2 separate regions of the Homo sapiens genome follow, and region 1 is linked to region 2. Evidence: fine-mapped expression QTL. A gene starts in region 2. The other region holds a variant in brackets. All regions are shown on one strand. Distances are from middle to middle. Region 1 overlaps KCNQ4 (potassium voltage-gated channel subfamily Q member 4). Region 2 holds the start of KCNQ4 (potassium voltage-gated channel subfamily Q member 4).

The links. PIP is the estimated chance that this variant, and not a neighbour inherited with it, causes the effect.
Region 1: its variant is fine-mapped to the expression of KCNQ4 in spinal cord (GTEx, PIP above 0.99).

Annotation. Positions count from the first base shown.
Region 1 is chr1:40,818,200-40,823,559 of GRCh38, forward strand. KCNQ4 (potassium voltage-gated channel subfamily Q member 4) reads left to right here. Exons shown (of 14, transcript NM_004700.4): 3 at 1-91; 4 at 306-481; 5 at 1,148-1,273; 6 at 1,676-1,786; 7 at 1,966-2,061; 8 at 4,115-4,203. Among named protein-coding and RNA genes, the nearest start is that of KCNQ4, 37 kb to the left of the region's middle. RefSeq lists enhancers at 304-353, 2,558-3,059, 2,771-2,915, 2,813-2,957, a silencer at 674-733 and cis regulatory regions at 2,834-2,851, 2,876-2,893. The variant A/G (reference allele first, on the strand shown) is at 3,012.
Region 2 is chr1:40,780,930-40,786,289 of GRCh38, forward strand. It overlaps KCNQ4 (potassium voltage-gated channel subfamily Q member 4), which reads left to right and starts at 2,858. Exons shown (of 14, transcript NM_004700.4): 1 at 2,858-3,478. The coding sequence starts at 3,165.

The DNA of each region.
Region 1 (5,360 bases), 37 kb after region 2:
ATCGTCCGGGTCTGGTCCGCCGGATGCTGCTGCCGCTACCGAGGATGGCAGGGTCGCTTCCGCTTTGCCAGAAAGCCCTTCTGTGTCATCGGTAATGAGGCGCGCCCCGCCCGACCTGACCCCTGACCCCAGGAGCCAGGGTGACGCCTTTACTCCCAATCCCGACTCTGACCCTGGAGACCCGCACAGATTCAGCGGACCCTCCCCCTCCCTCCCCAGTCCCCTGCCACATCCCCAGAAGTCCCCGCCTCCGGGTCCGTGCGCGGGGTAGGCTGGCTGTGATCTCGCCGCCCCCGCCCCTGCAGACTTCATCGTGTTCGTGGCCTCGGTGGCCGTCATCGCCGCGGGTACCCAGGGCAACATCTTCGCCACGTCCGCGCTGCGCAGCATGCGCTTCCTGCAGATCCTGCGCATGGTGCGCATGGACCGCCGCGGCGGCACCTGGAAGCTGCTGGGCTCAGTGGTCTACGCGCATAGCAAGGTGAGGCCTGCAAGCCGCGCGCGGAGACCCGAGGGCGTGTCTGGGGCACGACCAGAGCGGGCAGGGCGGAGAGGGCGAGGTCAGAGGGGCTGTCTCCGTGCTGGGAAGGGGTGTGGCCTGCGGGGGTTGGAGCCCTAGCAGGAGGCGAGGTCTAAGCGGGTGGGGCGAAGTGGATTCTGAATTAGGTAGGGGCGGGCCTAGGAGTCCGGACCGGATCAGGGGGCGGGGCCGGAGAGGCGGGGCTTGAGGGTTTCCCCTGGATGCTTCTGGGTTTGAAGGGACCACTCGTACCACAAAGTGGGCAGCTGAGGTGGGACTTGAGGGTGGGGCTGGAGCGGGGCTAGGGTGGGCCCCAGGTGGAAGCCTGAAAGTGGGACTTGGGGGACGGGGCAAGGTAGGCCGGGTGCTGGAGTCCTGAGCCTGGAACCTGGAGACTCAAGGCAGGCGGGGTGAGGGTGGGGGTGGGAATGGGGGTCGGGGTAGGGGGAGTGCTGGCGGTTTCGCGAAGGCCGGGGCAGGGTCGCCGTGATGGGAGGAGCTGAGAAAGAAAAGCGAGCCTGGGACTCCGGGAGATGGGGGACCTTTATCCCTTTCCCGTGTGGAAGCCCCCCACATCTCCCAGGCAGGCACAGCGCTCCTCACCGCGCCCCTCCGCCTGCCCCGCAGGAGCTGATCACCGCCTGGTACATCGGGTTCCTGGTGCTCATCTTCGCCTCCTTCCTGGTCTACCTGGCTGAGAAGGACGCCAACTCCGACTTCTCCTCCTACGCCGACTCGCTCTGGTGGGGGACGGTGCGTGAGGGTCTTTGTAGGGCTGCCCTTCTCCCTGGGATCCTCCCTGGGAACTTCCCGAGGTCTGCCCATCGTGACTCCTGACTCAGGGTTGAGCGGGCCTGCCCCTGCCCTCTCACTAGAGCTGGGACCCCCCTGAGACCAGCCCCAATGCTAACCCCCCAACCTGCTCTGGTGGACCTGCCTCTGTCCCCAGCTAGCCCCGCACATCAAGACCTTGTGACTATACCCCTTTCCCCTGACCAGCCCAGGAGAGGGAGAATCCATCTATGACCCTAACCAGCCCCCGTGGGTGACCAGGGGCCCCTTCCCTCATGATCAGGCTCCTACCTGCCTGTACCCCCAACAAGCCGTAGGTGGCCCCCGTGACCAGTCCTGCCTGTAACCTGTTTGTGTCTCCAGATTACATTGACAACCATCGGCTATGGTGACAAGACACCGCACACATGGCTGGGCAGGGTCCTGGCTGCTGGCTTCGCCTTACTGGGCATCTCTTTCTTTGCCCTGCCTGCCGTGAGTTGCCTCCTGCTCAGTTGGTGGGGGAGGCTGAGGGTGGGACCTGCTCACCCCTGTCACACATTTGCCTGGGGAGCCTGGGGTACCTCAGAGGGGCAAGGATGGGGACACCCTTGCAGCCTCTTACTGCCCCACCACTGCCAGCACATTCCCCCAACCATGCCCTATCCCTCTAGGGCATCCTAGGCTCCGGCTTTGCCCTGAAGGTCCAGGAGCAGCACCGGCAGAAGCACTTCGAGAAGCGGAGGATGCCGGCAGCCAACCTCATCCAGGTACAAGATGCCCGGGAAGAAGCCCTAGGAGCAGGGCCGTGTGACTGCACTGGTGTGTCAACCCTGTGTGCTGACCCATGTCCCCAGCCCAACTGTGACACCACTTTGAAGCTCAAAAGGGCTATGTGACTTTCCTGGAGCCACATGCCAAGTCACACACAGAGCCAGGATGCTCACTGACAGTGCCAGAAACTTCCCCCTGCACCAAATGCCTGGTTTAGGGCTAGCCAGAACTGCCCTATTGCCCAACTCCAGCCCAACTTCACAGGGCCTGGGGAGGGGCGGAGCCCAGACAGGAGCTGGGAGGCCTCTGGTGGAGACCCACTGCTGCCCCCATCAGCTGTGCAGCAGTAAGCCTGCCCCACTTCCAGCACCTTCATTCATTCATTCATTCCACAAGCACTCACACAAATGAAGAGAGGATGGTGCAGACAGGGCTTTTAGGAATCTCAACATTTAGCAGGTGGGTGGGCCTGCAAAGTTGAGCTGGGCAAGGAGACAGAAGGAACAGCCAGAGGGGTGGGTAGGAAGCCAGGAGTGTGTGGTCTCAGTTTCCCTCTGTGCCATGGCGTGTTGTGACTGTGTGTGGGCTGAGGCCAGGGCTCTGATTTTCTGTGACCCTGGGACTAGGCCTTGGCTTTTTCTAGTCAGGGGTGTGTGTAAGGGAACTCCTTGCAGGAAATGCTTCAGGGAATACTGGCCCAGTCCACCTCTGCCTGCTCCCTAGCCTGTCACCCTCTGAGCCCCAAACCCAAGCCTCACTCAGCCCTTCCTTATCTCTCCTCCCCAGGGTAGAACCCTCCTCCCTGTCGCTGTTATCTCCAGCCACCAGCTCAGCCTTTTCTTCTTAGCGTCCCTTGGGGCACAATGGCCACTGTCCCCTGGGAGCTGGCCTTCTGAGGGGCATTGTAGGGGCAGGCGGCTGGCACTGTCCATGCCAAGAGACAGCT[A/G]GTATTGTGGTGCCCATAATTAATGAGACAGCTCTGGCAGCTGCTCCCCAGCCCATGCCAGGGGCCTAGGCAAGCAGGAAGTAAAAATATTCCTGTCTTAGGAGGGTGCCTGGCTGGTGAGGTCAGCAGTGGCAGCCCCTTAAGGACAAGAGGCATCCAAAGAAGGGAGGCGTCCAGGGCCCAGCTCTGCCTTGTCCTGCCTAGCAGCCTCCATGCCTCCCTGCTCTCACTGATGGCCACACTCACAGTCCCTCCCTGGCTCTTCCTACGTGGAGGGAGAGGGACAGTCTCTCCTCCTGTCTGACTTTCATCCCTCCTGCTGCAGAGGAAGCTCGGCAAGCCCATGGATGCTGAGGGGTTGGTAGGTAATGCTTTTCCTCCCCTCTCAGTCCTTAGTATTCCCATGGGCAGTGACAGGCAGCTGGGAAAGATGGAGTGGCATTGCTAGTAATAATAATGACATTCTGCAAACATTTGCAAAGCACCCACATGTGCCAGACACTATATTTGCACTGAGAATGCAGCGGTAACAAAGACACAGCTTGCAGTCTAGGGGGAGAGAAAGTTATCAGTCAAATACACAATGAATAGGTATTCATCAAATGTGATAAGGGGAATAACAGGAGTGTTTAACAGAGGAACCTGGCATGAAGTGCCTACTATATACCAGGCACTGAGCTTGGCATTTAATATACAACTGTTCATTTAATCCTCACAACACCCTGGTAGGCAAGTAGTGTTACATGCGTTTTACAGGTGAAGAAACTGAGGTCCTGAAGCTTTACTTAATTTGTCCTCACTAATAAGGGGCAGAGCTGGGATTGGAAACCCATGTCTGCCTGACAACAAAACTCCAGCTCTTAACCTCTATGCTCTATGGCCCCTGGCTCTGACATTGATCTGCTTTGTCCCCTCGGGGAAGTCGTTTCTCCCTAGGCCTTACTTTCTTGGCTGCCCCTGTCAGTGGCTGTGGAATTGGAACTGGCCTCTGGCTCTGGGTAACCCACAACTGGACCAAGGACTGGGTTCTTTCAGGGGAGAGGGCTGGTGGGGACTGAGAGGCCTCACTGATGCCCCATCCCCCACGTCCCCCATACCACCAGGCTGCCTGGCGCCTGTACTCCACCGATATGAGCCGGGCCTACCTGACAGCCACCTGGTACTACTATGACAGTATCCTCCCATCCTTCAGGTAGGTCCTGCTGGGGGTGGGGGTGGGTGGGGGGCTGGCAGCAATGCCCTTTGAGGACAAGTGGCTGAGACTCAACCCTGGAGGGTGGAAAGGGGGTGATGGCTCCCAGGGGAGCACCCTGGGCTGGCTCTGCAGATCCTATGTAATTCAGAGCCTGGAGTGTCCTTTATTCCACTCTGCTATGCCCAGGGAAGAGGTGGATACTGGACATAGGGCATTGGTGAAGCCCTGCCCCATGGCTGAACCCCGGCCCTGGAGTGCTGGCAGTGTGCATGCTCACCCATAGGTGATGCCATCTAGGGCAGTGATACAGCCAGCTCGTCTCCCCTCAGTCCTGAATGGGGGACAGAGTTAGTGGATATTGCAGCTGGTTGGAGAAAGTGTGGGATGGGCAGAAACATGTGTTCCAGACTTAGGTGCATGCTCCTACCCTGAACCCCCATGTAGGAATATGTGCCCACTTTTACTGGGCCAGTCAGCAGCCTCAGGGCCCAGAAGTGGGTCTGCCCCACTGGCCCGGGCCAGGCTAAGACTGCATGGGGGTGGCACCAGGAGAGGGATTATTAATAGCATCACAAAGGTGCGTGTGGCCAGGTGCCTGGCTAGGCCCTCAGGCAGGAATGAAAACCATGGAGCCCAGCTCGGTCCCACGGGCAGGCGGGCATCAAGCTTGTGGCTGGGGCAGGATGCTGTGCTCAGCGCTTCTGCGGGTGCCTTTTTTGCCTCATTAGTTCTCCAGGAGAAGCTGTTGCGCGATTCCACTCGCCTCTGCACCTGGCTTCCCCATCCCTGCGCCCTCCCAGCCCTAGGGGCTTCCCAGGGGAGAAGCAGGAGAGAAGGGGCCGGGAAGAGGGGCTCCCAGCATCACACTGGTGCCCCCACATCTCTCCACCCGGCAGAGGCAAGCTCCTACCTCAGAGTGGGAAGGTGACTAGATTAGAAGAGAGGCCTTTTGTTCAAGGCTGGGCATTCGAGAGTGGGGCAGGGCTGATTTGTAAGAAATACAATGTGTATGAGGGAAGATCTGGGGGTGGGGGTGGTCAGATGGTCTAGGACCTCTGCCCAGAGGAACAGAGCCTAGTCTGGAGATTCTGGATCCACTGGGCATCTGCTCCCTGGACCTTAGTTTGGTCATCCATGCAATGGGAAGGCAGGCA
Region 2 (5,360 bases):
CACAGGTCACAGTTCTGGGGGTCACCAATAGGCTGTGTAGACTTAGGTGAGTCCCTGTGCCTCTCAGAGCCTCAGCTGTCTCAAGCAAGCTGCTGCTCTCTGGCCCAAAAGGGACTGGGCCTGGCACACAGATGGCACTCAGCAAATGGAAGCACTCGCCCTCCCACCCTTCCTCTCAGTCAATACTTGCTCCATTGATGGCTGATGGGGACAGTGATGAATTACAGAAGATCTTGGAGCCCTGCCCACTTCTTGCACAGATGGGGAAACAAGTCCAGGGTGGGGAAGAGACTTGCCCAGGTGGGAGTGAGTCTTAGTGAGTGCGTCTGTCTCCTCAGTGGGGCAGGGAAGCTTTCGCAGTGTTACCAGGGTGGAGACAGGGCCTGGGGGTGGAAAGGAAACTGCTGAGGGTGGGGTCAGGGGAACAGGTGGGAGAGGGAAGGAGGAGGGTAGGGAACCACGGTGTCCAGTCCCCTCCAGCAGAGGGGCCAATTGAGGGAGCCTGAGACAGCTGTTTGCTCAGAAAAGTGTCTTAGTCACTAAAGGTTGTGGTGGGGAAAGTCCGTCCTCCCAGTCATGTCCTGGGAATCCGGATGGCGCAGGAAGGCCACCCGGTGACCCTAAGAGTGGCCACCTGTCCTCTCTGAACTGGACTTTCTCTTCTGGCCCTTCCACTCTTCCATGTGTACACATATGCCAAGTAAATTTGCTGTGGCCTCCTGGAACCATCTCCCCCATCCCTCTCACCCCTTAGGAAGAGTTCTGTGTCCCTCCATTACCCATACGCCCGCAGGAGAAACAGGCTTCTATGCCCTATGAAAGTCCTTCCTGAGATCTAACTTCCATCCCTCTAGCTGCAACCACAGTCTCTTTCCTCTTTCTGCTGCCTTTGAGCAGGTAATCTGGAGCTGGAGTTGGGAATGATGAGACACTCCCTGCAGTGAGGGCTCCTCACAAGGTGGGGAAGGGACCTTTGTAGTCCCCCAGCTGGGAAGAGAGCCATGGGATCCAGAGGTGATGCTGAGCTTGAAGATTAGATTTCCCAGAACAGACCCAGTTTCAGATATTCTGGGTGTTAAGGGCAACCTGAATTCAAATTCCATTTCTGCTACAGAACAAGAGCCTCAAAAAGACCCCCTAGAAACACCCCCAGGGCGCTTGCAACTGCTTTCCTGTGCACCTTTCATGTCCTAGACCTTAGTCCCATTTCCCAGGATCTATGATTGAGAAGAACCAGCCAGGCAGTTCCACAGAGGGAGGACAGTGCTGCATATTTTGGGGGTGCCATCTTCAGCTCATAGAGAGAAGATGGGTTAACTCAGCCCAGGCACCACATCCCTAGTGGGGCCTTGGGGTCCAGAAACTGTCCCCAGCTTCCAGTAGAGGATCCGGGCATAACCTGCCCTGGGGCACCCGGCTCTGGCCCTGGGCACACCTGGACCAGGAGCAGCAGAAGAGATTCAGGTCAGACCCCAGAGGGCACCCCCAGCTAGGCAGAGGGGAAAGGATCACTATGGGGTAGGGGTGTGGGCCGGTTGCCAAGCCCAGTTTAGGGACCCCACAGATCCCTGCAGCCCACGGCCCTGCCTCCCTCCCTCCCTCACTGGCGCTCAGCAGATCAATGCTGCCTTTGCTGACAGCTGAGAATCGAGCTCGCCTTCCCGCCCCTTCCCCCGCCCCTCCCGCTCGGCTTCGTCCCTCGAGATCCTCCCGGAGGAACCGGGAAGAGTTTGCTGCGGAAGGCTCACCCTGGGGCAGGGCCTGCGGAGGGAGCGGCTGGTGTGGCCGCAGCTTTCCGTGGAGGAAGAGGGAAAGAGGATCGGGAAACCCAAGTTACCAACCCTGTGCAGGGCCCAGGAGGGCTAAAGGAGAGGGACTGCCCCCTACAGCCAGAGAGATGGAGGTCGGGGACTAAGAAAAACTTTCCAGCTGGAGAGGGAATGCCCTGGGACAAAGTATCCCCTTTTCTGGCTGGGATTCTGTGGGCCTTGGGTAGGGGGTGTGTGTCCCCTCTAAGGCTGGCTTAGAGCTCATCTCCCAACACTCCATCTGCCCAAACCCAGTTCCCTGACCTGGGAGTGGGGCAGGGGAGCAGGCCCCTCCATCGGGGAGGATCCTCTTCTGGGCAGGGTGGCTCTTCCCCCATCACGATGAAGGGAAGCTCAGAGGTGGCAGTTGGTGGGAGAAAGACACACCCAGGCCCACTGTGTTCCACACACCCTGATGCTGCCTAGCAGCCCGTGGGCTCCAGGCCTTTCAGGTAAGAGCAGGACAACCGCCGCTGCCCACCCAGCCACACACAGCACTGGGCACACTTTAAGCACCCGCACCAGGCACACAGTGCTCGACCCCAACGGACACACCTCATCCCCTTCGGACTCCACCTCCACTTTCGCAGCCACCCACACCCGACCCATAACTCACACCTCACTGACTCCATCCCCGCACCTGGTAGACCCACAGCCACCCACCCTGCACACACAAGTAGACGCCGTTCCACCGGTCTACACCTAAACTCCACGGGACACTGCGTCCCTTCCCCTGCCGCCCGCGGCCACAACTCCACATTCCACTTTCCACAAGCACACACGAGGCGTCCCACCCCGGGCTGGCCTTCGGGGCCACACTGCCCCACGCAGCGGTGGACACCACTTGCACGCGTCCGGCTTCCCGGCCCCGCGCGCTGCCCCCGCCACGCGGTTCGGCCCAGGCACCAACTCGGCCGCCCGTGCGCCCTGCCCCGCCGCCTGCTCCGCGCGTTCCCTCCCTCCGCCTCGCCTCGCTTGCTCGCTCGCTCCCTCCCGATTTGGGAAGGCGGCCGCGGGGCGGGCGGGGGAGGGGCGGGGCGGGGGAGGGTGACATGTGAGCGGCGCGCGCCGGTGGCAGGTGGAAAGGCGAGCGGCATGGAGCGCGTAATAAGAGAGTTGGAGTCGGAAAGAGCAGCCCCAGTCGCCGGGGAAGCGGGAGGTCAGTGCGGGCTCCGGCGGCCCCCAGGCTCCGAGCGCCCGCCCGCGGCCCCGGCCCGGCCCCTAGCCCCCGCCGCCCGCGCCCGCCCCGGGTCGCCCCTCTGGCCCCGGGTCCGAGCCATGCGTCTCTGAGCGCCCCGAGCGCGCCCCCGCCCCGGACCGTGCCCGGGCCCCGGCGCCCCCAGCCCGGCGCCGCCCATGGCCGAGGCCCCCCCGCGCCGCCTCGGCCTGGGTCCCCCGCCCGGGGACGCCCCCCGCGCGGAGCTAGTGGCGCTCACGGCCGTGCAGAGCGAACAGGGCGAGGCGGGCGGGGGCGGCTCCCCGCGCCGCCTCGGCCTCCTGGGCAGCCCCCTGCCGCCGGGCGCGCCCCTCCCTGGGCCGGGCTCCGGCTCGGGCTCCGCCTGCGGCCAGCGCTCCTCGGCCGCGCACAAGCGCTACCGCCGCCTGCAGAACTGGGTCTACAACGTGCTGGAGCGGCCCCGCGGCTGGGCCTTCGTCTACCACGTCTTCATGTGAGTTTGCGACCCCGCGCCCTTCCGCGTTTCCCCGCGCAAGCCTGGCCTCCCGGGGCACGGCCGCCCCGCCCTGGCTCCGCCTTCTACCCCCCTGCCTCAGGGCCGACCCTCATCTCTCTCCCCCCAGGCCTAAGCCCGGTTTCTGATCCCCTCGCTGAGCCCGACCCTAAGCCCTGATCTCCCAGGCCTGACCCCTGCTTGACCTCGCTTCTGACCTCCCCGCACCGCAACTGCTTATTTCCATCCTGACCGCCAATCTCTGCTCCTCTGTCCCAGGTACTCCCGACCGCCAGCTGCCTCCCCCAAGTCCGCTTGGCGAAGTCTGGGGCCCCTGGAGTGGGCGCCCTTTTCCTCTTCCCCACCCCTGCCTCCCTGTGTCCCAGACACAAAGAGGAACCCTTGGCTCCCACACGCTTCTGTCACCTGCTCCCCAGCTCTGAGCTATGAAGGGCTCCCCTCAGGGGTGCTCCTCTCCAGGGCGGCCCTCATTCCTACCCCTGCCCAGCTGACTGTGGGTGTGTGGGGGTCCCTGTGGGCCCCCTGGGCCCTGACACTCGCATATGCTGTGTCCGACTTGATCTGTGTCTTCGCTCAGTCTTCCCCTCCACCCTCAACTTCCCAGTGGCAACGGCGGCCGCCCTGCCTGCCCTGCCCTACCCTGCCGGCTTGGCCCAGCTCGCCTGCCTTGTTGGCTGGCAGCACCAGGCCTGGCTCTAGGCACCAGGGGAAAAAGAAAGAGGAGAGGGGTAGGTTTGGAAACACTGACGCTGCTGGGGCCCCCTCCTCCCTCTCACCAGGCTCCTACAACTTTCAAAAACACTGACCCCTCTTGGGTGTGAAGAGTGAATTTTGGCAGCTCAGAGCTCAGTCTTGGGGTACGGCCTGGCCCAGCCAGGAACATGAGAGGCCCCGCAGATATCAGTTGAAGGGCTGGGCCTGACGCTGGGACGCTCAGAGGTGCCCAGAGAGAGACCTCTGGTCCCTGGAAAATGTGTGGCTATTAATCCCTTTTTGCTGCCACCAGAGAGGGCCCTTTGGCGCTGGGGTCTCCTGGGTGGCCCACCTGCCTGCCCACCTGACTGTCTAGCAGCCCTCCTGCTGGCCTGGCTGTCCCTCTGCCAGCCTGAGTTTCCACCTGTGTGCGAGTTGGCCAGTCTGCTCACCCTTCCACCTAACTGTCCGCAGTCCTTCTGCTTGCCTGTTTCCATCCATCTGTGGCCTGTGCAGTTATCCGGGTGCCTGTCTGTGCATCTGCCTATCCACCTGTCCACCTGACTGTCCACTCTTCCTCTACCTGTCTTTTCCACCTGTCTCTGGGTCTGTCCTTCGGCCTGTTTCTCGGGTGCTTGCTGGCCTGCCTCTGCCCCATCTGAACTGGGCCCACATAATTTCAGAGGTGAAGGGGAGAAAGATGCGGCACAGGGAGGGGCAGGGGGGGAAGACAGCAGGGCTCTCTCGGCCATTAAGTGCGTTGGGGGTGGCAACCTTGACTCTGTGCAGAGACCTCAGCTGGGCTAGGCTGGGGCAGAGAGTTGAAATTGCTCAGGACATGAGGTCAAGCTTCGGTTCAGGGTCAACGGTTTGTAGTAGCCCAGTCCTTAGTGTCCATTGGGAGGCCTAGGATGAATATTTGTGGCTATAAAGAGGCCCGTTGGAGTGAGGAAGGCCCAGGGCTGGTGGAGTTGGGGGTGAGGGGATGGGGACTACTTCTTAGGAGTGGCTACAGAGCAGCCTCCTTGAGTGCCTAAGGAGGGTGAGACACCCCCCAGAGAACAACTGTGCCCTCCGTGGGCTCCTCTTGGGAAGGGACTTTTCCAAGGCATGGCAGGGCCTGGGGAAGCCAATAGGGCTCTGAGGTGGGGTCCTTACCCCCCCAGGC